Linked DNA regions of Homo sapiens: region 2 is linked to region 1. A link means that fine-mapping ties the variant in region 1 to the expression of a gene that starts in the linked region. Tissue or cell type: whole blood. Region 1 holds a variant in brackets; the other region holds the start of a gene. All regions are shown on one strand. Distances are between the middles of the regions.

Region 1 (2,684 bases):
CTTGGCTCCTCGGCCACGCCCCCAAGCGCGGGGCCTTGTGGGAGTTGTGGTCCTGGGCGGTCGCCTAGGCGCCGCGGCAGGAAGGCGGAGCCGCTGAACGAGAGGACTCGGGAACTACAACTGCGAAGGCCGCCCCGCCTCCCCGAGGCCTCGGGCTCCGCGGCGGCCAATGAGGCGGGACCACGCGGGCCTCCAAAACACCGGGGGGTGCGGGCGGGGGAAGCGGGGCGACCTCTTCTCCGGGAAACCAGGCTGAGGACCTCTCTGCGTCGGTCCCTGCTGTCGCTCCTGGAGTCCTCGCAGACGCCAGGCTCTAGGATTCACCCAGTACGCGGGCGAGTTAGGAACGGACGGTGCGGGATCTTTGACTTTCGGTCTGAAGCGTATTCTTTGTCTCATTCATTTTTCTGTAGCCTCACATCTGCTGTGGGTGCCTATGTAAGCTACCTGTGACTTGTAGAGATGGCTTCGGCTCTTTTTTAATTTCATGCACCCTAGATGTGGATGTCATCTCCTGCCCCGCCCCAGCCCGACTCCTAGGTTGACACGTGCGAGTATAACGCATGCTAAAGAATGAAGACAAACCCAAAGGCTTATGATGAAATATGGGGATGGGGTAAAACAAAAAAAAACTTAGAGTGACATAGATTGGGCGCAGATCCCAACTCTAAAACATTCTAGCTAGTTATTGGGCCTTAATTCCCACCTCATATCTTGTTCTAGGGCTACATAAGATTAGATACAGAAAGAGCTGAGTATAGTGCCTAGCACCTAGGAAGCACTCAATAAATGGTAACTGCTATTAGTTTTATTAATGCCTTTGATTTCTACAAAACGAGTAATACATCTCCCTTGTGTTTATGTAGCGTGTATTAGTTTCTCATTGATGCTGTAAGAAACTATCACACATTTAGTTGCATACAACAAAAGAAATTCATTACCTTATAGTACTGGAGATCAGGTGTCCAAAATGGACCTGTAGGGCTGTGTTCCTTTTGGAGGCTCTCAGGGACAATGTGTTTCCTTACCTTTTCCAGCTTCCAGAGGCCACCTGCATTCCTTACCTCATGACTTCACATCTCCTTCACTCTCTCTGCTTCCCTC[G/T]TCACATGCCTTCTCTTGTGACCCTAACTCTTCTGTCTCTCTTGTATAAGGACCCTTGTGATTACATTGGTTACAGACCATCCTATCTCAAAATCCTCAACTTGATCACATCTGCACAGTCCCTTTTGCCATATAGGATAACATATTCACAGGTTCCAGAGATTAGGATGAGGATTTATAAATAGAGGGTCATTAATCAGCCTACCACATAGTGGTTTATACCTTTCAGAACCAGCAGAGCATTAAACCAAATGCAGGGTCCTGGGGTGGCTGACTGCATAGGTCACATGCCCATGAAGCCAGTCCTGCCTGTCCTTTTCCCCTCCAGCAACTCTTTCCCTTCTGCCTCCAAACTGTCCAGATCTTCCCTAGCTTAAAAGCAAAAAGAAATTGGCTGGGTGTGGTGGCTCACACCTGTAATCCCAGCACTTTGGGAGGCTGAGGCGAGCAGATCACCTGAGGTCAGGAATTTGAGACCAGCCTGACCAACGTGGAGAAACCCTGTCTCTACTAAAAATACAAAATTAGCCGGGCAAGGTAGCACATGCCTGTAATCTCAGCTACTTGGGAGGCTGAGACAGGAGAATCGCTTGAACTCAGGAGGCGGAGGTTGCGGTGAGCTGAGATCACGCCATTGCACTCCAGCCTGGGCAACAAGAGCGAAACTCTGTCTCAAAAAAAAAAAAAAAAAAATTGTTGCTTGATTTTTCCAGCTACTTTTCCATGTCTCCTTTTCTCTTCCAAACCTATACTTCCTATCTGCTCACTGCCTTCTTCCCTTCATATAAATGTGCTTTTGATAAGAGAAACTTTTTATCAAGTTTGGTAGACTTTTTAAAAGATTCCTTGTCTGTGCTGTATTTGAGGTTGTCAATAACACATACTTCCTGGAATTTTGTTATGCAAAACTTCTTTTTTTAAATTGTGGGTTATAAATTTTCCTATTATAAAATCTCGGGTTCTTTAAGGACTCTCTCTAGTGCCTGGATATCAAAGGCAGAATTCATGGCTTTCCAGAGGCTTGAAATATTTGTTATTAAAGAACAAAGGAAGAAAGTGGGTTCGGGGGTGGAGTAAAAAAAAGAGAGAGAGACAAAGTGGACAGGGAACTTTAATGCAGACAGGGGTCAGATAGCTTTTGTCCTCTTAGTTACCTAATCCAGAAAGTCACAGTAACAAACCTCCCCGTTTGCTTTTGTTTTCAGCTCAGAAGCCTTACACATAACTTCTAGGGACAAATGAGATTTTTCTTGGTGAGTGAAATTGGAAATAGCAGGTGTTTGTCATGAAATAGGGGCATACCAAGACTCACTTAAAGTGGTGTCTGTCATGATCTGTTTTAGTGTTCATTGTTAAGAGTGGTATGACGGGGTTGTTTCTTTGTGAACAGGCAGCCCTCCTCTTTGTTCTCTCATTCTGACTGATTTACCTCTGCTTTCCCTAAAATCAGCTACACTGAAACCAGCATTGTGAGAGGCCCTGGGGATGTGCTATCACCCATGCTTCCTGCAGATGATGTTCAGTTAGAACCTTCCCATTCCTAAGGCTGTGGTTAGAAGTTGAAACAGGAAGAAAGTGCA
Region 2 (2,684 bases), 140 kb before region 1:
TTTCTTCTGTTTACCAGAACCGCTTGCCCAGCAATGTTTCCAGAGGGCGCCCGGCTTTCCCTCTTTTCCCAGAGCACTCCCCAGCTCTCCCAAGACAAGGGTGGCGTGGTGCCCCGGGGCAAAGACTAAGTCGCTGTACAGCCTCGAGGAGCGAGCTGCTCAGCAAAAGCAAAAGAGAAGGGCTCTCGGGTGGCGGGGACAGACCCTCCTTCGGCATGGGTTGGATCGGACAAGGGGGGCCGTGTGCCGTCAGCTGCCCCACTTCTCTCTGAAGCCCAGTGGGCTCCATCCACTGACCCGCGGCCCGCGCGCCTCCCGGCACCGGCTACATCGCTGGGAGGTGAGGCGCTGGGAGCGCGTGAGGCTCTCCGGGAGAAAACAGCCCAGCTTGCATCCCAGAGGAGGCAGCAGCCGCAGGCACCGTCTATTTCCTCACTCAGTATACAAATTTGACCTCAAAAATACGAACCCTGTCTTTGGCATGTCTGCATTTAGAAATAAACATCATTCCAGACGCCGGCCAGTTCATAGCCACAGAGTCGTAAAGTTTTATTTTTAAAGGGGGGGACGGAAAGGACTTGTAAAGTTTTTTTTTTAAATTTGTTTTTAAATAAAGGAATTAACTTCTGCAAAACAAGCAATCAGCAGCAGAATGCGCGAGGCCACGAGTGCGATCCCCCGAGGCGCGGGGCGCGGCTGGGAAGTTTTGGGGGCGCGCGGCGCGGTGCCGGGACCGGGGAGGAGGCGCGCGGTTCTGGGGGCGCGCAGTGCGGGAGCGCGCGGCCCCGGGGATGGGGAAGGGGCCGGGGACGGGTAGCGCGCGGCCCCTGGGATGGGGAGGGGGCGGGAAGGGGGGAAGAGACGCGGGGCTCTGGGGGCCCGCAGTCTGGGAGCGCGCGGCCCCGGGGATGGGGAGGGGGCCGGGAGGAGGCGTGCGGCTCTGGGGGCGCGCACTGCGGGAGCGCGCGGTGGCGAGGATAGGGCGGGCCGGGGTTCGCGGGGCGAAGGCGCGCGGTGCCCGGGGGAGGGCGGGCCGGGGCGCGCGGGCCGGGGCGGGGGCGCGCGGGCCGGGGCGGGGGCGCGCGGGGCCGGTCGGCGCGCGGGGGCGGCGGGCGCGGCGCTGCCAATCGCAGACAAAGGCCGTCCCAGTGAATCATGTGGTGCCGGGGGAGGAAGTGCGGCTTGTTTTCTTTCCTCCAGTCTCGGGGCTGCAGGCTGAGCGCGATGCGCGGAGACCCCCGCGGGGGCGGCGGCGGCCGTGAGCCCCGATGAGGCCCGAGCGTCCCCGGCCGCGCGGCAGCGCCCCCGGCCCGATGGAGACCCCGCCGTGGGACCCAGCCCGCAACGACTCGCTGCCGCCCACGCTGACCCCGGCCGTGCCCCCCTACGTGAAGCTTGGCCTCACCGTCGTCTACACCGTGTTCTACGCGCTGCTCTTCGTGTTCATCTACGTGCAGCTCTGGCTGGTGCTGCGTTACCGCCACAAGCGGCTCAGCTACCAGAGCGTCTTCCTCTTTCTCTGCCTCTTCTGGGCCTCCCTGCGGACCGTCCTCTTCTCCTTCTACTTCAAAGACTTCGTGGCGGCCAATTCGCTCAGCCCCTTCGTCTTCTGGCTGCTCTACTGCTTCCCTGTGTGCCTGCAGTTTTTCACCCTCACGCTGATGAACTTGTACTTCACGCAGGTGAGTTTCAGAGAGGCTCCTGGAGGCGCTCACCTGGCGGGGTGGTCCCCGCGGGGCGCCCGAGGCAGGGGCGATGGCAGCCGCGGGGGCGGGTCCGGCCCTAGGGCTGAGAGTGTAGGGAGAAGGCGCCGGCTCTGGGGTCGTCCGAACCCTGTCCTGTTTGCGGGCATTTGTCATAGGAAACCCCCTGCCATTCCCAAAAGGGGCAAGGAGAAGGCAGGGGAGGGCTGGAGGCCGCCGCTCACTCGCTGCCCCTGGCTCCGCATCGTGCGGTGGATTCGGGGCGCTTCTCCGTGCGCAGCGCGAAGCAGCAGCGCCTGCACACGCCAGTTAGTACGGATGGAAGGTGTGCCCCCAAGGGAGGCCTGAACTCTAGAATTTGCCCTGCCTCCCCAGGCACCTAACTCCCGGCCTGGAAAGGTCTTCTGCACGTTGGCCTCCAGATTTGGGCCTGACACTGCTGTTTTGAGCGTTGGCAGGGTGAGACCATGTTGGTTTTGATGAGATGTTTTGAACCTCCGGCTTAGGAGCTCTACAGAACTGCGGCTTACTAACTCATTCCACCGGATTGCTAAACAGCAGGCTGGGGTAACACCCAGCTCCGAGCTGCTGCCGCTCATCAGAGTTACTGTCTGAGCTCATCTGAGAGGCCCCAAGAAAAGGCCATAAAAGCTGACTGGGGCTCTTTTACAGCCACACAAAAATCACTTTATGGGGCATATTATTAAATAAGCTAATGGGAGAGTATGTGAATTAACTTGGCTGCTGCTTTACTGCTGATGGTTGACTTAATGAAAGTGCAGTAATTGTTGAGCACTTTGCAAATACTTTGTATAGCGTTGCACAAAGGTTTAATAACGCGGTGCCGCCGTCATCATCGTCATCATCATCTCTGATTCCCATTAGCTTTCCAAGCACTAAGATGTCCATTTTCACTAGGACTCTGCCGAAGGGGAAGGCGTCAACGGTGTCACCTGGTGAGGGTAATTTCAGAACTGTCGG

Evidence for each region. PIP is the estimated chance that this variant, and not a neighbour inherited with it, causes the effect.
Region 2: it holds the start of GPR137B, and the variant in region 1 is fine-mapped to the expression of GPR137B in whole blood (TOPMed, PIP 0.95).

What each region holds. Positions count from the first base shown.
Region 1 is chr1:236,282,017-236,284,700 of GRCh38, forward strand. No RefSeq gene overlaps it. Among named protein-coding and RNA genes, the nearest start is that of ERO1B, 1.4 kb to the left of the region's middle. RefSeq lists a silencer at 1-286 and an enhancer at 2,121-2,270. The variant G/T (reference allele first, on the strand shown) is at 1,105.
Region 2 is chr1:236,141,355-236,144,038 of GRCh38, forward strand. It overlaps GPR137B (G protein-coupled receptor 137B), which reads left to right and starts at 1,185. Exons shown (of 7, transcript NM_003272.4): 1 at 1,185-1,682. The coding sequence starts at 1,269. RefSeq lists silencers at 924-1,103, 1,174-1,443 and an enhancer at 1,409-1,912.